Regions from separate parts of the Homo sapiens genome. Here region 2 is linked to region 1. The links come from fine-mapping of genetic effects on gene expression. A gene starts in region 1. The other region holds a variant in brackets. All regions are shown on one strand. Distances are from middle to middle.

What was found. PIP is the estimated chance that this variant, and not a neighbour inherited with it, causes the effect.
Region 2: its variant is fine-mapped to the expression of RNASE4 in uterus (GTEx, PIP 0.94).

What each region holds. Positions count from the first base shown.
Region 1 is chr14:20,679,906-20,690,134 of GRCh38, forward strand. RNASE4 (ribonuclease A family member 4) reads left to right here and starts at 4,655. Exons shown (of 2, transcript NM_002937.5): 1 at 4,655-4,853. It overlaps ANG (angiogenin), which reads left to right and starts at 8,859. Exons shown (of 2, transcript NM_001097577.3): 1 at 8,859-8,969. It overlaps TRT-TGT5-1 (tRNA-Thr (anticodon TGT) 5-1), which reads left to right and starts at 1,785; the gene lies at 1,785-1,857. TRY-GTA5-5 (tRNA-Tyr (anticodon GTA) 5-5) reads left to right here and starts at 3,368; the gene lies at 3,368-3,456. It also overlaps TRP-TGG3-2. RefSeq lists enhancers at 2,267-2,316, 3,037-3,346, 3,547-3,736, 3,877-4,006, 4,807-4,946 and 1 more and silencers at 4,137-4,186, 4,457-4,576.
Region 2 is chr14:20,420,410-20,437,397 of GRCh38, forward strand. KLHL33 (kelch like family member 33) reads right to left here and starts at 15,757. Exons shown (of 5, transcript NM_001365790.2): 1 at 15,690-15,757; 2 at 14,655-15,421; 3 at 9,386-10,310; 4 at 9,093-9,260; 5 at 5,443-8,992. The coding sequence starts at 15,402. The coding sequence ends at 8,440. RefSeq lists enhancers at 8,585-9,217, 15,304-16,213. The variant T/G (reference allele first, on the strand shown) is at 8,062.

The sequences.
Region 1 (10,229 bases):
TTGTTTAAGTCACCCAGTCTGTGGTATTTTATTATGGAAGCCCTAGCAAACTAACACAATGACTGAGAGTTTTCCAGAACTAAAGAAAGACAGCAGTATATGGATTTAAGAAAACCCATACCCAAAAACTTGACACTGATACCATATTTGGAAAAACATGGGTTTTCCTTATGGTATCCTGTACTCCTGTTTTATGTTTCTAAATGGAAAGCTTCCTGGGCGATGCATCTGATTGGTGGAGCCCAGGTCACATGCCCATTCTCAGCTGTAAGCTGGGAAAGCAAGTGTTCTAGGACAGACTTACTTATAATATGTGAAATATCCACATGTAAGGAGAATTTTTAAAAGATGTTGGACACACACTAACATAACATATGCCTATAACAGGGCTATTCAAAACTTATGTTCTAGTCTCAGCTGTTTTCTCTGTATTCTTTTCCTTCAAGAGTGCATAACTCGTAGAGTCTCTAACTCAATGGATGACTTATGTAATTTGATTAATTCATTTATCAATTCATGAAACTCTAGACACGAGACTATTCTGGCTATCATGCAATTCCCATGAACTGCTCCACCTTCACTTCATATTCAGCTTACCTAAATCCTAGCGTCACCCCTCCGCCCTCTCCAGATACGCTGAAGAAGTAGGCTTCCTTTTTTCTGCAGGTGTTATCTTGCCTCTTCAAGACACCTTTGAGAGTCCCCTCTCTTTCCTCTTGATTTCACTTCATACCTAGGTTCAGCAGAATCGCCCTGCCCTGTAACGCTCTCACTCATCCCTTCCTTTCCAGTCCCATAACGATTACCTTTTTGCAGCTTTATGTTTGAGCATCTTCACCATGGCCAGTCACTGGTGTTTCTGACTCTGGTTGCTCGTCCCTTCAATTAATTCCGCAAACTCATCAATGTTTGGTGAATTTCTATTTTCTTCTACTAATCTTCTCACCTGCTGCCCCAGCCAGTGTTCCCTTGAATGTCTCAGTCTTTCTCTCGGACTTTGCTCGTAATTTTATTCTACCAGGGACCACCCTGCTCCCATTTTTGTCTAAGTCTTAACCTCCCTTCATAGTGCAGCTCAGGCCAATGCCCTCTTGAAGACACCCCCGGATGGTTCACTTTGTAAATGTGTGGACCTTGGCATGGCCAACGCCCCTTCACACCTGGCACAGCTACTTTTCATTGTTTTCCTTCATGAAAACTAAAGTTCTTTTGTTCCACAAAACTGTGACAGTGACTTCAGGATAAAGATCATATCTGGATCCCTAATTCTTAGTGCAGAGCCTAGTACAGAACTGGAATGCAGTGTTTGTTGAATGAAGGAATGAATTAAACTGCAAATTAACGAATGCCTGCTCTGGCACTGAGACTCGCAGCTGTGAGAAAGGTCTCTGGAGGCAGACAGTTGCTGGTACGAAGTCCTGAGTCAAGCAGGAAACAAAATGCGGATGTCAGCAGTTTCAAGTGAGACCTGTGGTGAGCTCCTTCCTCTGCCGGTTTTCCCTTCTTAATTTTCAGTCTGAAGTGAGGGAGTGGAGAATCTTTCTGTGTTAGACTGTGTCGCGTTGGGCAGATTTCTCCAATCTTAGGATAGTAGTGGTCCCTCTCACTGGCCTTCACTTTGTACCATCCCCAGCAAGAACACTGAGTCTGTGAACCGAATTCTAGTAGTCGGGAAATGGATTGAAAGGACATCCAGGTTTTACTTAGTTTCTATGCTCAGATGCTGGCAGAAGCCCTGCAAATCTTTTCCTTTTCTGTGAAAGGAAGAGGCGGTTTCTGCGTGAGGCCCTATAGCTCAGGGGTTAGAGCACTGGTCTTGTAAACCAGGGGTCGCGAGTTCAAATCTCGCTGGGGCCTTGCGAAACTACTTTCTTGATTCAGGTGTTTTTTGAAAAACTCCCCTTCTAGTCTTTCTGAACTAAGTCACAGAAAATGTGGCAAATTAGAGCTTCTTTCCTCTGTTCAGAGCTTCCAAACACTAGCTCAGCAGAACGTTTCCTTTAGGTTCCAGTAGTAATGCTGCTTTAGCTCCTGGAATGCGGCGGAATCCATTACACAGGCGGTGGAAATCACCGTCAGCCTCTGCCCACGCCCTGGCTTGCGGACTGGCGGCGAGAGCCCTGCTGACTGCCGGGCGGGAAATGGGGACAGCTAGGCGAGACAATAGCCCTTTAAGCTATTCTCAAGCCCCGGGTCTGGGCATATTTGGAGTAGAGATCAAGGTTCCACTTCTGAAACGGGAAGAGCCAGCAATGGCCGCTCCGGCCAGGCGTCCAGAAGAGAGATGCACGTTGTGAGGCAAGGTTTCATGTGCCAGTGGGGTTTTGGGAAATTAAGGGCCCGACTTTAGGGGCGAGACTTGGGTCACTAAATTTGATTTTAACGCAGAGAAATGTGGCCTTCCTTTTGAATGAGCTGCAAATATTATCTCCAAAAGCGAATTCACACAGAAACATTGGGTTTGCCCAGATGTCCTCTATTTCAGGGGTTCCCAACCCTTGGGCCGCGCACCTGTCCATGGCCTGTTAGGGACCCGGCTGTACAGCAGGAGGTGAACTCCGGGCTAGCTACCAGTACCGCCTGAGCTCCGCCTCCTGTGAGATCAGTGGTGGCATTAGAATCTCACAGGAGCGCGAACCCTATTGGGAACTGCGCATGCCAGGGATCTAAACTGCACTCCTTATGAGAATCTAAGTGATGCCTGATGATCTGAGGTGGAACAGTTTCATCCCGAAACCATCCCCCAACTCTTCCCCCCGCCCCCGCGGTCCGTGGAAAAACTGTCTTCCACGAAACCGGTCCCTAGTGCCAAAAATGTTGGGGACCACTGCTCCATTCCACACCCTCTCCCTCCCGTGTCTGTGGACGTGTAAGCGGAAGAGCCGAGATTGGGAGGGAAGCGCAGGAAGTGAGGACATCAGGGAGCCCGGGCCTAAGCCTGGAGGCCCGCCCTCTCCGGCGTTCACAGTTGCGCAGTCAGAATTGTGTGCGTCCCACCGCCTCAGCCCCCAGTTCTCCGACGCCCAGGTGCCGGTCCCCACCCTACACACAAACACACGCATCCACGCTCGCGAGGCCCCTGGGTCCGCGCCCAGTGAGGCCAACAGCCCTCGGGCGCCCAGAGGATGAGCAGCCTCGGTATGCCCGAGTTTCAGGGGCGCCTGCTCTGCTTGGGAGCCCCTCAGTGAGGCAGGGGAATCCAGATTTAGAAAGGTTGTCCTCAGAACCTCGGACGCAGGACTGTCTTACAAGCTGGCTTTGTGACTCTGCAGTAATTACTTTCCGGGTATAAAGAGATTTCTTTCTTTCCCGTCTCTGGTTAAGGATGTCTCGAGTAGGGATTTTTAGGAGAGTTGTTTCCGTGCTTCCTTCGATAGCTCAGCTGGTAGAGCGGAGGACTGTAGTACTTAATGTGTGGTCATCCTTAGGTCGCTGGTTCGATTCCGGCTCGAAGGAGACGCTGCTGTTTTGGGGTTTACGGTTGCTCTTCGTTTGTGCAAAAAATCTCTGTATCTTGACGTGATCAAATCTGTTTCTGTCTCTCACCCTTGTCCGAAGGAAACAGCTTAGCCGCGAGGTGGGCTGCGTTAATCGCGTCTTGAAAAGTTGGTTACCTTTCTGAAAGATAGTAGACCCGAATCGTCCCACCGTTGGGGGAAGGCACTGTTGTCTTACCGAAGTGTGTTATATTTTGGCTTCTACGTTAAGTCCAAAGGCCGGCAGATATATACGTATCGCGCGTCTGTCCTGGGGCTCAGTACCCTACAGCCTTGCAACCGAGCTCAGCTCTGGCCCTCGATCTCTATTTCAGCCCCCTCCAGGTTCCCTCCAGGCCCTAGCGGGCTTAAATCGCTCCCCGGGCTCAGTGAGACACAAGCATGTGACCTAAAGTCTAAAAAGCTGCCTTCCTTCACCCCATCCTGCATCTGGATCGAGGAGAATAAGCCAGAGAATAAGCCACACTTGAAACTTGGTGAAGATGGAAGGAATAACTAAATAAGGCCTAAGGGAAATGTCACAACAGAGGAAAAGAAACAAAACAAAAAACCTTCAGAACAGCAGGCGGAAAAGAGAAATTCAGAGTGATAGGAAGCACCACTCAGCTACAGTGGCTCGTTGGTCTAGGGGTATGATTCTCGCTTTGGGTGCGAGAGGTCCCGGGTTCAAATCCCGGACGAGCCCTCGTGGCTACTGTTTTTCCACCCCCTTTTGTCAACTACTGAAAAAAAGTCTCCGTTAAATTTGAAACACAAACTGTCTCGCGATGGGCTGTCCTGCCAAAGAAAGCAGCAGCGAATAAGTACGTGGCAGATGGTGCTGTCGACCAGTGTCAAGACCAAGTTTCATGGGTTCCTGGACGCTCAGCCAGGGGTAGTCTCTGAAGGGCCGCCTGGCAATTGGGAGCAGAAGCCAGTTTCCCGCCATCTGCTCTCCGTGGAGGCAGTGCTCTCGCGGCTGCTGCCCGTTGGGGTCCAGCTGAGGAAGGAGCGCGGATCCCAGGCTCGTTCTTTGCCTGGGCTGCCCCTGCGGCCCCTGGGGCGGGTGCTGCTGCGGCGCCAGCTCCAAGGGCGGATCCAGGCGGGAGGGGCCTCCTCGGAGAAGCGGGGCGCGGTCCCAACTACGCAGAGGCTGGCACGCCGACCCTCCACACCTCACCACGCCCCCATCTCCGTCCGTGTACACACACTCACACAAGGACGCCAACCCCACCTAGATGCAAAGCAGGATTCAAAAGAACATCTTTGCGTTTTCTACCGGCTCCCCATCATCGTACTAGGGAGGAAGAAGCGGGTGAGAAACAAAACTTCTTTCCATTGTCCTGCCCGTTTCTGCGGACTTGTTCTGAGGCCGAGGTAGGTTCACACTCCTGCTCCTCCTCCTCCTCTCTGGTAGCTTCATAAGGGGCGTTTAGGCCGGGGAGTCCTTTCCTAGTAGAGGCAGCTTGGGACTCCTTGGGGAGGAGTTTGCGGGACGGGGCTGGAGAGGGAGGAATGGGGAGGGACGTGAAAGTCCCGTATTTGTATGAGTTAACGACTTTACATTCCCACTCAGGTTTACTTTGCGCAGCTGGGCACAGATGCCAGCTTCTATTGATTAGTAGGCTTGGAGGGGGACCACAGAATCGCCGAACCTAAGGGAAGCCCTAGGAGGCCTGCACTTGCCCACAACTAAGAAAGCTTTGCTAGTTATTCAGGCTAATCACCAGCTTTTTGAAGCAGGCCTTAGTTTTTTGCAAGCGTAACTAACATTTGGGGATCGGTGTTTTCTGTTTACTCTCCTCTGCCTCCTCACCCTTAACCCACCCTCAGCCAGTGTTGTGCAATTCTTAGAGACACTTGCCAACAGCCTCTTCTCTAAGCCTTCCTACTGGAAGGTTGGGATCCTCCGTTTTCTCGCTCTGAGACAGCACGTCAAATGCTAATAGCAGCACATGAGTAAAGCGCAACATCTTTATTAAAACAATTTCAGCACCACTCAGGGGGCTAGGGAAATCTCAGATGAGCCAAGACCCTCCCTCGTGACAGTAAAAATCTTATAATCAAGTCATAATGTAATCAGTAGAAACCCAAGGGACATCATTATCTGTGGCACAGGACCACCTTCCCAGAAGCAGCCTCAGGTATTCAAGACTTACTTAACCACAGAGCCACTAACAAGTTTTGCAAGAGGATAGGTTTATTACATACGCTTCAATTCAAGCAATTCTTTTACTGATGACAAGCAGAGTAAAATAATTTTTGAATTTATGGTAATAGTCAATGTAGGTTTCCTTCGAACAGCAACTTTCAGTGGCCCCTTTAAAGTTAGCTCTGATTGTCTAGAAAGTACTAGTATGGAATATAAAAGTTGTGTGGGCCCGGCACGGTGGCTCATGCCTGTAATCCCAGCACTTTGGGAGGCCGAGGTGGGTGCATCACAAGATCAGGAGTTCGAGACCAGCCTGGCCAAGATGGTGAAACCTCGTCTCTACTAAAAATACAAAAATTAGCCGGGCACGGTGGTGAGCACCTGTAACCCCAGCTACTCGGGAGGCTGAGACAGGAGACTCTCTTGAACCTGGGAGGCGGAGGTTACAGTGAACAGAGATTGCGTCACTGCACTCTAGCCTGGGTGACAGAGCAAGACTCCGTCTTAAAAAAAAAAAAAAAAAAAATTGTGTGGTGCATTGGAAAGCTTCCAGGCCGGCGAATGCAATGAGTTCCTTGGGCAATACATGTCTCTTTCTCTGTTCCTCAGTTGGCTCTTCTTTAATATGAGGGGTGGACAGAGTCTCAGAGGCCCCTCCCACTCTTGTTCTATGACTCCATGGAGTGGTACGATGTTAGTAACAGGACATGAGGCACTCTAGTAATGTGGAGATGAACTATCGTTTGGCAGAGAGGATGGAAAAAATCATTCCAGGAAAAGAGGAATGGCTTTAGCTATTGTTGAAAACAGATAATCAGGTTATAAGCAGGCAAGAGTAAGAGGTTTGTCAAGTTATTGTTGGAAGCATTGGTCACTGTGACTCAAATTAAAGTAGCTGGATAAAAAAGTGGACCAATGAAGGTCAGTGAAACCTTTCTTTAGGAGTTTTTATTGAATCTGTATTTAAGCAGATTCTCTGTAATTCTCTGTAAACAGTTATTCCCGGAAGAATGCCATGAAATACTTGGGAAAGAGGGAATGGGAACAAAGAGTGAGTGGGCACAAAGCCCAGAGTTGGTTGAAAAGCAAATGTTTAATTTTTGTCTTTGTTTGGAAATACAGGCATGTCAGCAGGACTTTGTCCCCACTGTCCTTCAATCAGTAGTGTTGCCTCTTCCTGGAGACGTGGTTCTTCTTGCCACGTGTGCTTTTCCTTCTTTACCTGTTACTTCCGTTATTGAATAAGTTCATGCTTATAGACCTAAAGTGTTAGAATAATAAAGAAATATAGAAATTATTTAGTCCATTCTTCCCATCATCTAATTTTATAATTAGTCCTAAGACAGAATGATACATATATACTCTGTATGAAGGAGGAAAGTGCTCTAACACTAGGGTCCTTGGAAACAGGACCCGTGCATCCCGTGTCTGTGTGCAGGGACATTATTGGCTTGAGGGAGAGAGAGAAAAAAATCTCCAGGAAAGGGGAATGACTTTCAAGTTAAAGCTGTCTGAACATTTAAAAAATATATGAGGTTTTTTGCAATTGGCGATTCCTTCATTTGTATTAAAATTACTGACAAAGATGTGATGTTCCTTAATCATAGAATATAATTCCTTGTTGTATTTTAAACACAAATGACTAAGTGCTTAGATGCATTCTAATGAAATAGTAATTTTTCCCCCAAACCCTACTTTTCATTTCAACAAAACTTCCTTGTGCCAAGTTTAAAAGAAAAACATAAAACTGTCTTTTTGCATTGTGGGCAGATTGTGTATCCTCCAAAGGTTGTCCAGTGAAGGCCCAGAGGCAGAGAAGGGACCTAACTATATTCAGAGGCTGCTGGTTGCCCCACCTCAGCACTACTGCAGAACTCTAAAATCAGAGGCTGCTCTGTTTGTGTGAGTCGGTGCTTGAATTGGTGCTTCAGGCCATGGGGCTGTGTGTGTGCAGGCGCATATGGGTTGTATGCTGTGGCAGGGTACCGCTTTTCGGGACTCAGAGGTGGTGTTGCTTGAGCTAAGCCTGGAAAGACAGGTCAGTTTTCTCCTTGCTTATGAAGGGTTCAAAGTCTGACTCCACCATTCATCTGCTGTTTGTTCTTGGAGTTTCCTCATGAGCAGAGCATATTTACATAATGCCTACCTCACACAGTCCTGGTGTTGGTTGAATGTAGTCATGTATGTGAGAGCTTCACAAAATGAAAGATTGCACTGAATATTATAATTATTGTGATTTCAAGTGCATTTGTTTTACTAGCAGGCAGCCTGTCTTTTCTTGACACCTTCTCAAGTGCAGCCAGACTGAATACTTGGCAGCTAGGTGGGTGACAACAGAGGATTGAGGATTTTTAAAAAGATAACACTGTCCTAGATCCAACACCACTGTGGGCAAATGCTGGGGGTCTGTGAAACAGTTGGTACCCTGCTGCTGTCTGATATTGGAAACTATGAGATCTATAAGGTGATCCTGGTGACCTTTGGCCCACTGTTTTTACGCAAGCAATGGATCTACAGCCCTGCTTTGATGATGGAGATAAGCAATTTTGCAACTACATTACAAGGATCAGAAGATTGAATGTTCAGGGTTAGTCTCTTGTGGACAGGTAAAGATGGAAGAAGGAGAAACCCAGGAAACATGGCAAGCCTGCTTCTGGGGGTTAGAAGCTGAGAAGTTGAGTGTAGGGGGAGGGGCAGTGTACTAATAGCTGTCACACAACCTTCTCTGGAAGTGCTTTCCTGGCTGTATGAAATCGATGGAATAACGTGCTTAGCATCCGTTCATGAAACCAAATGATGTGATACGATAAATAGGATGTGATATGATAAATGATAAATAGTACAGTGGAAAAGCATCCTACTGGAAGACCATATCTTACTCTGTGACATCTTCCAAGGCAGTTCTTGGAGTTGGCCCAGGGAGATCAGAGATGCTATCTTATGGATCCAGACTATTATGTGTGAATAGGGAAACCTCAGTCCTGCCATGAACAAGAGTAAGCACCACAGACAGCAGAAAAGGGCAACTTTTGGACAGAAGGCCATGTTTCTCAAACTTTGTCTTCCAGAACAAATCTCTAATCCATTCAGGTGGGTTAATATCTAACCCAATCATGCCCAGCGAAAAGGTGAATGACCCTCCTCGTTTGTTCAAGAGCAGTGTCCTTGGTTTTCATGTCCCTGCCAGGACTGGGACACTATATATTAGGAACACTATATAATCAGAACCTGGAGAGGCCTCCAGGTTCACACAACTGGAACCCATCTCCAGGAACAAACAGCTGGAACCCATCTCCCGTTGAAGGGAAACTGCCAGATTTTTGTAAGATTCTTCCTCCTGGGTAAACTATTGTTCAATTTGTTTTATATATTATTTCTAGCCATCCATCCATTTTAATGAAACCATTTTCCTCCCTTTAAAGCCTCCAGGCTCAAGCTCATGAATTAAAAAGAAAATGGATCAGATTCTAAAGTTTAAAATGAAAACAGGTTTCTTTTGGGATGGCCTATGTGTGGATAAAGAGAAATTAGTGAGACTGGGAGGAAGTGGAAGTTTAGGAGGGATTTCTAAATTGTGATAAAATCCCCAAAGGCCTGGGGGAGCCATTTGCTGAAGGCCATCGGGAGTCCTCCCCCGTCGTCCACCCCTGTTACAGGCATTACACGTGGCTTAACAAGGAAAGAAACAGTATGTTTTTAGCATTGTTTCCTTCTAACCTTCCCTGCTAATTTCTCTTCTTAGAAAAGTTTTGGATGCTCTTTCAAACAAAGTGGAACACATCCCAAGATCAAAAGAAGGCTCACTGGCAGGTTGAAGGGAAGAAGGAAGGAAAAGCAATAAAGGGATGAATATGCCTTGGGTGTTAGGCTCTTACTTTGGGGGATTTTGCCCTAGGATGTATAAAAGTGTGAAGCCACATTGATGAAAATGATAACTATAGTTACTCATCATAAACTGTCAAGTTAACTCCCTGGTGTGTAAAATTTGATGAATCTTTTGAATACTGAACATTGCCTGTGGGGAGAGGGAGAGAATAATTCTTGTGAATACTAACAGATTCATTTGATACAGAAGATAAAGTTACTCTAAAGAACAGTTGGGGCCAGGTGTGGTGGCTCACACCTGTAATCCCCGCACTTTGGGAAGCCGAGGTAGCCGGATCAACTGAGGTCAGGAGTTCGAGACCAGCCTGGCCGACATGGCGAAACCCCGTCTCTACCAAATACACAAAATTAGCCAAGCGTGGTGGTGGCCGCCTGTAATCCCAGCTACTTGGGAGGCTGAGGCAGGAGAATTGCCTGAACCTGGGAGGTGGAGGTTGCAGTGAGCCAAGATAGCACCACTGCGATCTAGCCTGGGCGATAGAACAAGACTCTGTCTCAAAAAAAAAAAAAAAACAGGCCGGGCGCGGTGGCTCACGCCTGTAATCCCAGCACTTTGGGAGGCCGAGGCGGGTGGATCATGAGGTCAGGAGATCGAGACCATCCTGGCTAACAAGGTGAAACCCCGTCTCTACTAAAAATACAAAAAATTAGCCGGGCGCGGTGGCGGGCGCCTGTAGTCCCAGCTACTCGGGAGGCTGAGGCAGGAGAATGGCGTG
Region 2 (16,988 bases), 260 kb before region 1:
AAGAAAAAAAAGGCCGGGCATGGTGGCTCATGCCTGTAATCCCAACACTTTGGGAGGCCGAGGTGGGCGGATCCCAAGGTCAAGAGATCAAGACCATCCTGGCCAACATGGTGAAACACCATCTCTACTAAAAATACAAAAACTAGCTGGGCATGGTGGCATGCGCCTGTAGTCCCAGCTACTCGAGAGGCTGAGACAGGAGAATTGCTTGAACCTGGGAACGCGGAGGTTGCAGTGAGCTGAGATTGTGCCACTGCACTCCAGCCTGGTGACAGAGAGAGATTCCGTCCCAAAAAAAAAAAAAAATAGTGAACTTGGAACATTTTAATGACTTGTAGGAAGAATTTAAAAAATAGGGGAATTCAGATAATCAGGGAAGAACTGGAGTACTTGGCTGCAATCCAAGATATGGGTGAAGATAGTATATTACATATATATATATATATATATATATATATATATATATTTTTTTTTTTTTTTTTTTTTTTTTTTTTTTGAGATGGAATTTTGCTTTTGTTGCCCAGGCTGGAGTGCAGTGGCATAATCTCGGCTCACTGCAACCTCTGCCTCCTGGTTTCAAGCAATTCTCCTGCCTCAGCCTCCCAAGTAGCTGGGATTACAGGCACCTGCCACCACCGCTGGCTAATTTTTTGTCTTTTTAGTAGAGACAAGGTTTCACCATGTTGTCCTGGCTGGCCTTGAACTCCTGACCTCAGGTGATCCGCCTACCTCTGCCTCCCAAAGTGCTGGGATTACAGGAGTGAGCCACCACACCCAGCCAGATAATATATTATATATTAAATATGGTTGTTTAAACATGAACTCTGGAGTCCAACAGATCTGGGTTTATTTTTTATTTTTTTATTTTTATTTTTTGAGACAAAGGTCTTGAAACATGTGCCACCACACCTGGTCCAATGGATCTGTGTTTAAATCCTCCTCTGCTACTGACTAGCAGTGTGACCTAAGCTGTAGAAGAAAATAAGGTTAATAATCTCAACCCTCAAAGGGGCCAGAGAGTGGTCCTTGAGTCTGCAGTAAGATCACATGATGCTGATTTGGCAAAGGGGTCAGGCTAGGTTCTCCGTTTGAAAAGTCTCACCTCCTGTCTCATTTTCATAACAATCCCCAGCTCAATACATCCTAATAAGTGAAAAAAACTGCTGGAAGGAAGAACCCACTGCCCCTTTCTCTGGCTGAGCGTCTTTTAAATTCACAGCTATTTGCATTACAGCAATTGGATGTTAATTTTTCAAGACCATGTCTCCAAACCTCCAGTGGCACTTATACTCGCTCATTGCTCCCACTTGTAGAGCCCATGTATGAGTTTCATGGATAAAGCTTGCCACTCAAGTGGAGATGGAGCTACATTAGAGAGGGGGCATAATAAAGTCCTTCTACCAGTTTAAATACATGCTCAACATTTACAAACTCCTCTAATCTTCCAGTTTTCTCATCTATAAAGTGGGAATAATAATAGCACCCGCTTTTTATGGACTGTATTGTCATTCAAATTAGATAATATACATAAAGCACTTAGCATACCACCTGGCATATAGCTAGCACAAACAATGATAACTATAATCTAAAACAAGCAGTTCTAGGCTGGGCACAGTGGCTCACACCTGTAATCCCAGCACTTTGGGAGGCTGAGGCAGGTGGATCACCTGAGGTCGGGAGTTCAAGACTAGCTTGGACAAGATGGTAAAATCCCATCTCTACTAAAAATACAAAAATTAGCCAGGCATAGTGGCAGACTGCTGTAATCCCAGCTACTCTGGAGGCTGAGGCAGGAGAATCACTTGAATCTGGGAGGCGGAGGTTGCAGTGACCCAAGATCGCACCACTGCACTCCAGCCTGGGCGACAGAGTGAGACTCTGTCTCAAAAAAATAAAAAATAAAACAAGCAGTTCTTACTCTGCAATGAAAGAGTTGGCTTTCATCAGTGACAGCTTGCTTGAAAAGTGTGTATTGGGGCTCAGATTGCCTACCTGGCAATTAGTCAAACTGATATATAGGCCGGGCGCGGTGGCTCACTCTTGTAATCCCAGCACTTTGGGAGGCTGAGGCGGGCAGATCACTTGAGGTCAGGAGTTCAAGACCAGCCTGGCCAACATGGTGAAACCCTGTCTCTACTAAAAATACAAAAATTAGCCGGGCATGTGCCTATAATCCCAGCTACTCGGGAGGCTGAGGTAGGAGAATCACTTGAACCCAGAAAGTGGAGTTTGCAGTGAGCGGAGACTGCGCCACTGCTCTCCAGCCTGGGAGACAGAGCAAGACTCTGTCTCAAACAAAACAAAACAAAACACCAACTAACTGATACATAGCTCTCTAACTATATGCCTTGGCCTCATTTGGAATCCAGATGAATCTGCTTCCCTGTCTCAGGAGTACATCAGGCTGGAGTAGCTTATAACCTTCTGTACGGTACTCGTGGTCTCAGGAGCCTGTCACTACGGTATACTGGCCTCCTTGTTTGGCATCATTTAGCTCTCTGATCTAAAAGGATATGTCCTAGGAACTTGATTTATAGATTACCAAGGCACACTTTTCCAAATGTGCCTAGAGGTCCTTAGGACTGTCCCAAGCTCTGGGGTTCATGAGCTATAATAACACTGTGGTGTTTACAATACCATTATGGTGCTTATTTTATGGGGTACGAACTTGGAATTCAAACTGGTTAAAGGACTTACTCATAATTACCAAAGCAACAATTGAATTGAAACTTGAAGCCAAGTTACTGAATCTAGCTCAGTACACTTTCAAGGCTATACGTTTTTTTTGTCATTCTTCTAATACTGTATTTGTCTGTTCTCACATTACTATAAAGAAATACCCTAGACTGGGTAATTTATAAAGAAAAGAGGTTTAATTGTCTCATGGTTCTGCAGGCTATACAGGAAGCATGGCAGCATCTGCTTCTGGGGAGGCCTCAGGAAGTTTTCAATTATGGAAGAAGGCAAAGGAGGCGTGAAACGTCTTACATGGCAGGAGCAGGAGCAAGAAAGAGAGTGAGGCAGAAGGTGCTACACACTTGTAAACAACAAGTTCTCACGAAAACTCACTACCAGAAGAACACCACCAAGGGAATGGGGCTAAACCCACCATGGAAACCACTCCCATGACCCATCACCTCCCACCAGGCCCCACCTCTGACACTGGGGATTACAATTTGACATGAGATATGCACAGGGACACAGATCCAAAACATATCAAACACGAAATATAGATTATTAAATTCTGAATCAGCTACAGTAATAATACCATGATCATTTCTCTCTCAGAGAAAACAGACTATAATCTCACCACTAATGATATATATGTATGTATGTATATACACATAAATATCTATCTATCTATAATTTTTTTGGTAGGTGTTTTACCAGGAGCTGTGATGAATTCACACGTTTTCACTTAGGGCTCCTTGATCTCAAGGGCTAGACAGGATTTAGGATATAGTCTATGATCCTGAAAGAGTAATTATGACTGTCCTGTCTATAGACCTCGTCTGTGATGTTTGTCTTAGCCTGCCTGTTGGTCCTAATGTATGTGAGAGACTAGTTTCATGAAAAGCCTTCCTCTTCATTATCCAGACTGTGTACCACATAACTTTATTTCCTAAGCTGTGTAACAAAAGGTTTGAATTACATGATCTCTGAAACCTCTCCATTCTATAATTCTATTAAATAATCTTTCTATGCAATTTTTCTTTTATTCCTTTTTTTTTCAAGATGGGGTCTCACTATGTTATCCAGGCTGGACTCGAACTCCTGAGCTAAAGCAATCCTCCCACCTCAGCCTTCTGAGGAGCTGGAACTATGGGCATGTAGCACGGTGCCTGGCACTTTTTCATTCTTTTGATTGAACATTGTTGCTTCTACAACCCAGAGTGTCTGTCTGGGTAAGTAATAATTCTTGGTTTCACAGCTAGTGAAATTTTCATATAAATTTGCTCTTCTATTTTTTTAAACCTTCCTTGCTATCAATTTTCCATATATTATTATTATTAATTTGAGACAGAGTCTCACTCTGTCACCCAGGCTGGAGTGCAGTGGTGCAATCTCAGCTCACTGCAACCTCCGTCTCCCGGGTTCAAACAATTCTCGTGCCTCAGCCTCCCATGTAGCTGGGATTACAGGTATGTGTCACCACACCTGGCTAAAAATTTTCCGTATATATTATATTTAACACAGAAAAGATTGGGAGAAGACACTAAGTCAGTTTTTCTTTGGGTAGTCCAGTATTACATGATGAGTCAAGTAAAGAAGAAAAGATAAAGGAAAATAAGCTCAAGAGGATTCCAAAGCTTCAGGCCCAGGAAATAGGAGAAATGATAGTGCCAATAAAGCATGAGGAATCTGAACTAATGATGCTGGCACATCTAAATGGAGGTGAGAATCACTGAAAAAAATCAGACTAGAACCCAGGCGAACCATCAAGGTTGGAGACAGAGGAGAGGTGAGCTTCCTGACAGGGAGCATAAAACAAAGGAAAGGAAGAACGTGAGCAACCCAGCCAGGACTAGGCACAGGAGACAAGTGATACCTAGAGTCCCACACACTTACTTGTACTAAACATTAACCTGCATGTCCAGTCCTACCCAGTACCTGAGTCAACCTTGGAAAGATAAGAGAGATATCAGAAATTTCACCCTCACCAGCAAAGGGGGTGGAGGGAAGACTGTTGGGGGAGCTATTAGAGAGCATCTAGAACACCTTGGCTTATCATCTGATTCACCAAAGGTAAGAATCCCAGGCCTCTACAGTCATCAAACTAGTCTTGCCAGGTCACCACCACGGCTGCCCAATCTGTATGCATAGTTTCTATCCCAATTCCTACTTCTCACTCCACTTCCCTTCTGGGGTTGAAATGTTACCCTGATATTACCCTATTCTTAGTCTGCCTGGCTGAAGACCCAGACTGTTACCTTGCCTATATTCAGTCCCTTCTCACTGATGAATGGACTATTGACTAGGGTCCTCCTTCAAGTCAGAGGTCTCCTCTCTCCTCACTCTTCCCTCAGTTTTAAAGACAAATAATGAAAGTCAGAACTTTCTGCAATGAACCACCCTCATCCACATACCTGTGGATCCTTGGCTATCAGCTCCAAGGATGAAGCCACACCCCCCTGGACACTTTGATCTGGCTTACTGGATTTTGGATTGGAGAAATAAGAGAAGGTCCATCCAGGAGAGTGTGCTATCTCTAAAGCCAGAAGAAGAGAAATTTTTAGGGTAAGAGCCAGTTTTCACGCCAATCAGTTCCTGTAGAAAGATGAAAGAGAATGAAGATGGCCACAGATTGTTAGATTTGGTAAGAAGCAGGTCACAGTAACAGTGGAGGGAGATGATTTCAATCATGTGGTAGACCTAGAAGGCAGAATACAGGGAATTTTATTTTGAATGCTTTTTATAGTAGAGAAACTCAGATAAGAAAGATTCAGTCACTATGAAACCTTTATTTAAGTCTGCCTTTAGGTACAAATCACAAAAAATGTTCATAGAAGTTCATCCAGAGAGCTTGTCATCTCCTTCAATTTCCTTCTTCCCGTTCTTTATTCTTCCTTCTCTTTTCTCTTATACATCCTACTTACCCCTTCTCATTTTCAATTACATTCCTAGTCTATCTTAAATAGAGATACAGAAAAAGATCTTACTAAAATAACGAAATCTAAAAATAAATAAATAAAATACATGCCAAGTACTTCTGGGGCCAGAATGAAGAAGGGTGCAAGGGAGACTCCATCATCACCCTTAGAAACATGAAAATCTTAATAAACAATGGTAATAGAAAACTGACCTACACAGGCCGGGCATTGTGGCTCACGCCTGTAATCCCAGCACTTTCGGAGGTCGAGGTGGGTGGATCACCTGAGGTCGGGAGTTCAAGACCAGCCTGACCAACATGGAGAAACCCCGTCTCTACTAAAAATACAAAATTAGCCAGATGTAATAGCTGTAATCCCAGCAACTCAGGGAGGCTGAGGCAGGAGAATCACTTGAACTCAGGAGGAAGAGTTTGCGGTGAGCTGAGATCACGCCATTGCACTCCAGCCTGGGCAACAGAGTAAAACTCTGTCTCAAAAAAAAAAAAAAAAAAAAGAAAAAGAAAATTGACAACAGGTGCTGGAGAGGATGTGGAGAAATAGGAACACTTTTACACTGTTGGTGGGACTGTAAACTAGTTCAACCATTGTGGAAGTCAGTGTGGCGATTCCTCAGGGACCTAGAACTAGAAATACCATTTGACCCAGCCATCCCATTACTGGGTATATGCCCAAAGGAATATAAATCATGCCGCTATAAAGACACATGCACACATATGTTTATTGCATCACTATTCACAATAGCAAAGACTTGGAACCAACCCAAATGTCCAACAATGATAGACCGGATTAAGAAAATGTGGCACATATACACCATGGAATACTATGCAGCCATAAAAAATGATGAGTTCATGTCCTTTGTAGGGACATGGATGAGATTGGAAATCATCATTCTCAGTAAACTATCGCAAGGACAAAAAAACCAAACACCGCATGTTCTCACTCATAGGTGGGAATTGAACAATGAGAACACGTGGACACAGGAAGGGGAACATCACACTCTGGAGAATGTTGTGGGGTGGGGGGAGGGGGGAAGGATAGCATTAGGAGATATACCTAATGCTAAATGACGAGTTAATGGGTGCAGCACACCAGCATGGCACATGTATACATATGTAACTAACCTGCACATTGGGCACATGTACCCTAAAACTTAAAGTATAATAATAATAAAATAAAATAAATTAAAAAAAAAAAAAGAAAAAGAAAATTGACCTAAACACACACAAAAAAACTGACCCTTTTTTGCTCTCAGCTGTCCAGTAGGCAGAAATGGAAAGAGCAGACAGGAAGGATAGAGGTGAGTCATAGAGGGCGGGAATACACAATCATTAAGTGAAAGCCATTATCCTCAGGAAGGCTCCAGAGAAGAGAGTAGGTGGCAAGAGCAGCAGAATTATCTGAAAAGCCTCTGGAATACCCACTTCCTCTTTGCTATGGAGAAACAGGGCATGGCATGCCCCACTTCTTTCTGTTTCAAATGCATTCCCCCTTCTCTAATGGGTGAGACTCTAGGCAGCCTTTAAGATCCAGTTCAAAATACACCCATCGGATGACACCTTTCCTAACAGAAGCCTTCCTGAGCAGAGTTCACTGCTCTATCCTCTGGGCTCTCGCAAGACTCGTCCATACATGTAAGTCCACTCAAAATTTGTATTTGTTTATGTCTATCTGCTGGTCAGGAGCTCTCTGACCTCTGTATCTTGGTGCCTCCTACAGTGCCTGCCACACAGTAGGTAATTAATAACTGTGTGAGGGAGAAAGAAGAGAAAGAAAAAAGAGAGGCAGTGGGGAGAGCAGGATGGGGGAAGAGAGAAAGAGGAAGCACCTGACTACCTTCCCTGGCCAAGATAAAGGGAAATGGATTTAAAAATAACTCTGGGGGAAAGGAACTGAAAGGGGGAAATGACTTTTCTGAGTCTTGTCTGCTTCTCACTCTTCTCTCCCCCCACATCCTCTCACCACTTGAGACCTCAGGCAACAACGGTCTCATTTTCACTCCTGATTCCTCAGTTTGCCCAAAAGAAAGAAGGCACACAGGCTTCTGACTTCTTCCACCCCATCTCCTTAAACCTCAGATCATCTGTTTTTCCACTGTGGGCCTCTCCCTCCTTGGCCTCTGCCCCCATCATCTTTCCCACACAACACTCCTGCCACATGGCCCTGGGGGGCCCGTCAGGCCTCTCAGGCCCCTGTGCCGTGCATGTCCATGTGGGAGCTTCTGCCTCAGAAGGAAACCAAGAGGTTCTCAGGGGCAGCCTGTGGTGTCTCGCTGGGAAACGCTAGACCAGGCCTACAAAGTTACCCGGGAGAGAATATTGTTAAGAAGGTTTAGGCATCCCAGGGGTGGGAGAGGAGAAAGGAGCAAGTTCCAGGAAAAAAAGGGCTGAACGATTTACAGTCCTTACTCCTACACTCCTCAAACTCTTTCATGGATGGCCATTCCACATTT[T/G]TCCCATGATCCATGGGTCAGAACCATTTTTCCAACTGTCCTCCCATGGTCTCTACACTTTGGCTACTGAAGCTTCTTAACTCTCTTTCAAACTAGATGCCCTTTCCCTAAGAATCCCTAAGCCTTGTGGAGTTGCTCCCGAGTCTCCTTTCCTCACCTGGGTATTCAGCTGCCTCCCCTTTCCCTATATGTTTTCCCTAGGAGTTCTGGAACCACCATTTCCTCAACGGAGATCATACGTACAAAAGCAGTTTACAATGCACAGTGTGAGAATAAAATACTACCAAGAATAAAGCCTCTTTTCACTCCCCACAATCTCTGTCCTTCTCTCAGGCTATTTCTTATGCCCTCCTCTCCCCATACACTGTTGCTCCCTCTTCACCCAGCAGGTTTGGTTTGGTGTGGGGTGGGAACCAAAGCTATGTGCTGCACAGCGGGCAGTGTCAGGATGCAGGCAGGCATCTCAGCCCGAGGCCTTGGCAGAGTTCCCAGGCAGAGCCATCGGCCCAGGCCAGGACAGTAGGCATGGATAAGGTGAGAGAGGGCATAAGTACGGTGACTGTAGCCCCCGAGCACCAGTAGCTCCCCCTGCAGCACAGCACTTGCAGCCCCCACATGGGGGGAGGGTAGGGGTGCCAGGTGAGTCCAGCTATCAGTCCTTAGTTCATAGGCCTCAAAGCTTAGCAGGTCCTCAGTCTCACCCAGCCCACCTGCCACATACAACCTCCCACCCAATGCAGCCATGACATGGCCAGCCCGAGGTACCCCCATAGGGCTCAGAAACGTCCCTGGCTTCTCAAGTTTGGGGTCATAGTGCATCAGTGAGGCCAGGTATTGGCCAGTCCCACCACAGCCACCGCTCACGTACAACTGGCCCTCCAAAATCGCAGCTGCGTGGGCAAAACATGGTGCTGGAAGTGCAGGTGCTGGCCTAAGGGAGAACAGGACACAAGATAAGGCAACTAGCATCTTCAACTCTCCTTCTATTCCAAGTCTCCTAATCTCTCCCAGATGCCCCCTTGCCTGCTTACCTCCAGACATTGAGCTCAGGGTTGTAGGTCTCCACAGAGTCCAGGGCAACATCATTGTGTCTTCCACCCAGGGCATAAAGTTTTCCATCCAGTGCCACCAAGGAGAAAAGGCTTCGAGCCTGGGACAAAGGAGCCATCTCCTCCCAGTCCTCTTGACTGGGCTCCCACCTGGACACAGTAGGACAAGAGATTGGAAGAGGGACTCTGGGCATCCGTGGTTGGCTAGGCCAGCAATTTCTCTCCCTGCCCACCTTAGGGCCTGCCACACCCTGCCCACTCCTAGAAGCTTATACCTGAGAGTTGAAGCCAGGGTGTTGGAGTGACTGTAGAAATCTTGTCCCCCACACACATAGAGTTCACTTCCTGCCAGGCTTGCAGCCCCATGCCGGAAGCGTCCGGGGGCAGGCAGGGCAGGCAGCTGCCCCCACTCAACAGTTCGTACCAGTCCCACGCCACAGCGGAAGGCCCGGGCCCACCACACTGCTCGGGATGGTTGTCTTAGGGCCATGTCTGGTCTGAGCCCATCCCCGCCAATCACTACCAGTGCCCGGTCAGGCTCCCTCCGTCTCTCTTGGCCTGGAACATCAGCCTCTACCATCAGCTGGTGCAACAGATCTGGGGTCAGGGGTGGAAGTAGCCCGGCTGCCCGCACCCTCCGCAACTCCCTGGTGGACATGCGGCCAAAGCGGACACATCGCAGCAGGGCCTTGGCCTCTGACTCCTGGGTCTCGGGGTTGGCAGCCAGCCAACACCGTGCAGCCACAAAGGCCTCAAACTCCTCCTGCACATGGAGCTCATCACTATCCAGGAGCTCAGCCAAGCAGGCAGCTGGTAAAGAAGGGAAAGCAGGACACAAGGCTACAGCAGGCAGGTGGGTGAGGAGGTAGTGACGGGCTTTGCTCCAGAGCCTCTCCAACCCAGGGGCTTCCGCCATGGGGAACAGGGCCAGGCAACGGGCAGGGCTGAGGCCCCGTGCCAAGCCTTTCTGACACAAATCCAAGCAGGAAGAGCTCTGGTACTGCAGAGCAGCCTGGGCAGCTCTCAGTAGCCCTGGCCACCTTGCCCGCACAACTCCGGAGTAAGCAAAAGAGACGAGGAGTCGCAGGTCCTGGGTGGAGATCGTCCGCAGAGATACCTCTGTGCCCTGGGATTCCCTCATCCCGCTCAGGAGCATGGCCCCAAAGAACTCACTGCCACAGGCCAGGGCGGCTCGGTGCACTGCAGGAGGGGAGAAGGAATAGAGGAGGACTCAAAGTATTGCAAGACCGATAGGCATTACCCCAACTTGGTACTCTAAGTTTGGCCAAACTCTAAGTTTGGCCCTCCAAGCCACCCACTGCTACAGACCAAACTGTGGTGTGCATCAGAATACCATGGGGTAGTTGTTAAAATGCAGGTTTCAGCAGTCCACTCCCAGAGATTCTGATTCAGCAGTTCTGGACGGAGACCCTAGAAATTTGTATTGTAACACTTCAAGTAACCCTATGTGATTCTCATGTTAGTGGCCTGAAGACACTTAGATAAACATTGCTTTAGTCTTTTTGGTCAGATGAGTCAGAAAAAGAGTCTTCATGGATCAGGTTGAGAGGAAAGCATTTGCTAAGAGGAGCACAAAATAAATGGGAAATGACCAACAAGCAACTTATATAGGTCTGTCTATATCGTGACAAAATAAAATTCTTTACAATCAAGAGCCAAGACTGTCAGCCATTCTGTTAGATTTTGCTGGGAAAGTGGCACCACTCGGGAATGGCTGTAATCCAACCTCATCGGATTGCTGTCTCCTCTTGCCTAAGATTTAGTGTTTAATGTTTTCCGTGCGTCCCAGCTTTTCTCTGCATAACCCTCTCCTGTTCTTGGTGTAATTTGTAGAATCATGAGATCTGAAACTTGAGAACTTCAAAATAATCTAATTCAATTATTCCCTTTAAAATAAGGAAACTGGTTGGGTGTCGTGGCACACACCTGTAATCCCAGCACTTTGGGAGGCTGAGGTGGGTAGGATCACTTGAGGTCAGGAGTTCAAGGCCAGCCTGGCCAACATGGTGAAACTCCATCTCTACCAAAAATACAAACATTAGCCGGGCATGGTGGCAGGCGCCTGTAATCCCAGCTACTTGGAGACTGAGGCAGGAGAATAGCTTGAACCTGGGAGGCGAGGGTTGCAATGAGCTGAGACTGCGCCGCTGCACCCAGCCTGGGTGACAGAGCGAGACTCCATCTCAAAATAAATAAATAAATAAAATGTGGAAACTGAGTTGGGTCCCAAAGAAAGCATGTGATTTATTTTTCATTTCCATGCAGTGGCTGTGTGGGCAGATCATCTCCATCCACTGCCACTGATGTCAGGCTGCAATAAGCATGCTTGTGTACCAATACCTTGGTTATCTGCATGGTCCTCATGACAATGAAACTGTCCTATTAACCTACGCTGTTAAACAATTAGACCTCATACTCAGCATCACTTATGGATTATTCTGGCCAAAATATTTAACTTGAATCTGTTCAACTCTTTAGATCTAAAGTCAAGTTTATAGGAAGTTGAAAGGCTAAAGGAACAATTTAGAGGGGAAAAACCACACAAATCAAGAAAATGGAGCATTTTATAGGATAACCAATTTTTTTTTTTTTGAGATAGGGTCTTACTCTGTCACCCTGCCTGGAGTGCAGTGGTACAATCTCGGCTCACTGCAACCTCCACCCTCCAGCTTCATGTGATTCTCGTGCCTCAGCTTCCAGATTAGCTGGGACTACAGGTGCACGCTACCATGCCTGGCTAATTTTTGTATTTTTAGTAGAGACGGTTTCGCCATGTTGGACAGGCTAACCTTGAACTCCTGGCCTCAAGTGATCTGCCTGCCTCGGCCTCCCAAAGTGTTGGGATTACAGGCGTGAGCCACTATGCCTGGCCCAGGGTAACCAATCTTACATGTTATTGTCTTTACCAATCAATATATAAAGTAATAAAAAAAAAAAAGGAGGAAGGACTGTACTAGATTAAAGGAAGCTTAAGAGACATGCAACTGAGAATAGCATAGTCCTTGATTAATTCCTGGGTTGAACAAACTCACTTTAAAAAATGTTTTTTGGACAACTGGGAAAATATAAATGTGGACTAGGTGATATTAAAAAATTACTGGCCAGGCGCGGTGGCTCATGCCTGTAAACCCAGCATTTTGGGAGGCTAAGGCAGGTGGATCACCTGAGGTCAGGAGTTCAAGACCAGACCAGCCAACATGGTGAAACCCCATCTCTACAAAAAATACAAAAATTAGCTGGGTGTGGTGGTGCACGCCTGTAATCCCAGTTACTCGGGAGGCTGAGGCAGGAGAATCACTTGAACCTGGGAGGTGAAGGCTGCAGTGAGCCGAGATCGTGCCATTGTACTCCAGCCTGGGTGACAGAACAAGATTCCATCTCAAAAAAAAGAAAGAAAGAAAGAAAGAAAGAAAGAAAGAAAGAAAGAAAGAAAGAAAGAAAGAAAGAGAGAAATTACTATTAATTTTGTCGTGCATGATAAAGGTATTATGGTTATGAGAAAATGTCCTCTTTGTTTTATTTTTTCCTTTCACACCTAGTCCCACAGAATTGTCTTCTTTTAAAAAGATACATACCCAAATACTTATGAGTAAAATGTCATGAATTTCCTTTAAACTTCAGTAAAAAATAAAATGAACAGATGAAATAAATATAGTAAAATATTAGTTGTTAAATCTGGGTGATGGGTGTTGTTTGAATGTTCATCTTAATATTCTTGGTTTTGTAAAATGCTTCATAATAAAAAGGTGGGGGGTAATGCTCCTAGAAGTCCTTTTAGGCAGGTCACAGAGGGCCAAGCTGTTTAAGAACTCCATGCTGCTTTGACCAACTGAGGCATGCGTGCCTTTCCCAAAGGGCAGGTGTTGTTCATATGACTTTCCACTGTCTTTTAAGCAGTAGGTAGTGGCCTGGTGCTTCCCAAGTAGTAAACATCAATGACAGATTTCAAATATATATTGTCTGAGAAAATCTGCATTCCTCAAAACAAGCTAAGCCATCTCAGCTCCCATATCATCAATCAACCTATAGTTCAGAGCCAACCCTGAAAGGGCTCACAGCCACTTGTATTCACCTCTTACTCATTACTATACCCTAGGATTTTAAGTGACAGATTCGCAACCATTAAGTAGGAATATTTCCTAGGGAAATAAAAGCAGTGATATGAGTATGCTTAAATTCAAAAGCCTAGTGAGAATTTTATGATTATGAAAAATTTAAATCCCCTCTCCATCTAGTGCTATCATAAATGAAAATAGACTTTTGGAGTGGTTTTCCTTCTAGGAGTCCCAGAAGCACTTCAGTTCCCAGTCACTCCTCTAATGGGCAGTAGCTATGTGACTTTGGACAAGTCTTGGATTCTGATTTCGTCATCATCAAAGTGTAACAGCCCAACTAGATAATCTCTAAACTAATCCCTTGTAATTTTAAACTTTCAATGTGTCCACATGGCCTAGTGGAAGGAGACTGGACTAGTGATGTAGGCTTGTATCCTGGGGTTGTCCCAAGTCAACATCTCCAAATTTAATGTTCCTTATGTGCACCTGTAGATAATGATATTGACCTCACCAGCTTTCAGTAAAATTTAAAAAGAGATGTCATGTGTAAAAATTTCAGGTACCCAGTGCCTCACTAAATGTTAGTAGACTCCGAATAATACTCAACTTATGCAACCCTACTTAGCTTTCCTGGTGATGAGCAGAGTTAACTTCAAAGTGCCATGGCCAGGCCGGGTGCAGTGACTCATGCCTGTAATCCCAGCATGAGACAGGTGGATCACCTGAGGTTAAGAGTTCAAGACAAGCCTGGCCAACCTGGTGAAACCCCATCTCTACTAAAAAAATACCAAAAAAATTAGCCAGGCATGGTGGCAGGTGCCTGTAATCCCAGCTACTCGGGAGGCTGAGGCAGGACAATCACTTGAACCCAGGAGGTGCAGGTTGCAGTGAGCCAAGATTGTGCCACTGCACTCCAGCCTGGGCAACAGAGTGAGATGCTGTCTCAGAAAAAAAAAAAAAAAGTGCCACGGCCTGGTAACCTTAAACAGTACCAGACCTTGCTCATTAGCTGCAGGGCCCATAAGTCAGCCATGGCGTCAAGCACACCAAGGTGAAAGCACACATTGAGTTTTCCACCATGTTCCCCTGGCTTTCCTGTGTCCTGAATGGAGGATGCCAAGAAGGGCCTTTTGTTAATTTCTGCTTGAGTCAATCCACTTTCTGCTTGTTCTACTGCCATGGATTGTACCCTTAGCTCTAGCCAGCTGGCTGGAGATTCCTTGTTACTGGACACAGGAAAAGCCAGACAGAGGGTCAGTTTAAATCTGTCAGAGCGCCTAGAAAACAACTCGACTGCGCATGCCCGGCTCTCCGTGGGGCAGGAGAGGCACCAAAGGCCACCCCAGGGAAATTCTGACAGCAGCAGGGATCAAAACCATCATGGTGGGGATAAAACCACCTGCTGCTTGCACACACCATTCCGTTAGCATATGCACCTGCAGTAATTTAATGCCCCACAGGCCCTCACCCGACAGCTGGCAGCCGCCTGCCTCCAGCTTCAAGTCACACCCGACGCCCTCTCGGTAGAGGAGCTCGATTCCGCGCAGGTTCTCCCTCAGCTCCTCTGCCTGGCTGGGCTTCTTTACATCTTCCCTGGCATTTCCAGCCCTCTCGCATGTCTGCTGGGCAGCAGCCTTCACCCGGGGCGCTCCCAGCGCCTCTGCTGCGGCCAGCACATCCCCCTGCGAGGCGGGGCCCAGCACCCCCTCATAGGCAAAGGTCAGCACGGCCTCCCAGCCCCCTGGGGACACCTCGAGGCTGAAGGGGGGCCGCGGACCTCCGCCGCCCAGCAGCCTGTCTCGGAAGAGGCTGCTGATTGCGGCCAGGATCACCCGATGCACCCCGTATACCCGCCCCGCGACTGACACCTCTTCGTCCAGCAACAGTCTCTGCTCCCGCAGCCGCTGGGCCTCGGCGAAAAACTGGCTCGGATGCTCCTCGCTGCGCAGCCACTCGGGCTCTGCCGCATCTTCATCTTCTTCCTCTTCCTCTTCTTCCTCTAGGGACAAGGCTGGAAAGGGAAGGTTCCTTGGGACCAGGGGCCTGGAACCAGGCTCCTCCAGAGGAAAGGAAGGCAATCTGGGATCCTCGTCGGGGGAGGGAGGCCAGGAAGGGGTTCTCTGGGCGTGCACAAGGAGTCCAAGGCAGTCCCTCTGGACGGGATGAGAGACACTCTCCAGCTCAGGGGGATAATGTGGGGTGTCCGAGACGCTCATGCCGAGGTTTGCTGGATAGCTGCAGGTGAGCAGAGGCAAGACAGCCTGGCGTCAGAGCTGGGCCCAAAGAGGCCAGAGCAACCATGTCTCCAGCCAGTTGAAATGTCAGTCTCTCCCCTGCTCCAACACCCTCCTCCTACCCTCAGCCACATCCCAGCACTGGAGTATCTGGGATATACAGGACAGCTATAGGGTGCACGCGGTGCAGTGAAACATGCAAGAAGCCCTGTAAAGATCCGGTAACCGGGACCACACCCCTCCCCTATTGCCCCCATCCTTTTAGTCACCCTCAGGAGACACCAGCGTTCCGCTTGCCCTCTCACTTAAGCGCCCGCTGTGCTTGGGGCTGCGTGGCAGAGGGAACTTGCCCACATGGCATCCCAGTCAGCCAGTGGCCCCATGGGGCTAATTATAGCCAGTCCTGGCTGGCTAGGCACTTGGCACCTGGTGTCCTAACTCTGACACCCAATCCCCTGGGCTCCCTCCCAGACTGACATCCCCACCCTTCCACCTGTAGGTCATACAGGAGTGTGCTGAGCTAGGCAAATTAGGAAACCAAGGAGAATGAGGGGATCTGGTGGAATGAGCCCAAGGCCAGAAGGGCTGGGCCACTAGAGTGGGCTGGAAGGATCAGGCAAAGAGTCTGGACCAGGCTTTGGCTGTTGACTTTTCTGTGCATGATAAAGCTGGGACCCCGCCGGGCATGGTGGTTCTTGCCTGTAATCCTAGCACTTTGGGAGGCCAAGGTGGGTGAGTCACTGGAGCCCAGGAATTTGAGACCAGCCTGGGTAATATGATGAAACTCCATATTTTTTATATCTACCAAAAATTACAAAAATTAGCTGGACGTGGTGTCTCATGCCTGTAGTCATAGCACTGTGGGAGGCCAAGGCGGATGGATCACTTGAGGCCAGCAGTTTGAGACCAAACTGGGCAACATGGTGAAACCCCATCTCTACAAAAAAATACAAAAATGAGCCAGGCATGGTGGGGCACATCTTTAGTCCCAGCTTCTTAGGAGGCTGAGGTGGGAGGATCACTTGAGCCCAGGAGGCAGAGGTTGCAGTGAGCTGAGGTCGCACCACACACTCCAGCTTGGGTGACAGAGCAAAACCCTGTCTCAAAAAACAAAAAAGCTGGGACCCAGGAGCGAATATAGCCCAGCTTTATTCATGGAGGGCAGAAGAGTGGGGAAAGTGAAGGGCCAGGGGGCAGGGCTACGGACCTAGGTGGCTCACCCCACACAGGGATTACTATCTGTCCAGAGGTGGGGTCCAGGGTAAGAGCCTGAAATCCAACCCTGTGTCTTTGGAAAAGTGTGGGGAATTCTAACTCTCATCTTGGCACTGGGATAAGAACCAGACAGTGGAAGGTGTGCTTGATCTGCATGCTGTGAGGACCAGAGTCCTGGACTAGATGGGCTATGGACATGCAAGTATTCCATTTGAGCCAGACGGTAACAGCCACTCCTTCTCCCTCCAGGACAACACTTCCTTTCTCATCCTGAGGCCAAGTGCTAGACTAAAGCCCCTAAAAGCCAGGCAATCACTTTGTGCCGCAGTTTTGAGTGTCATCTTGCAGAAAGG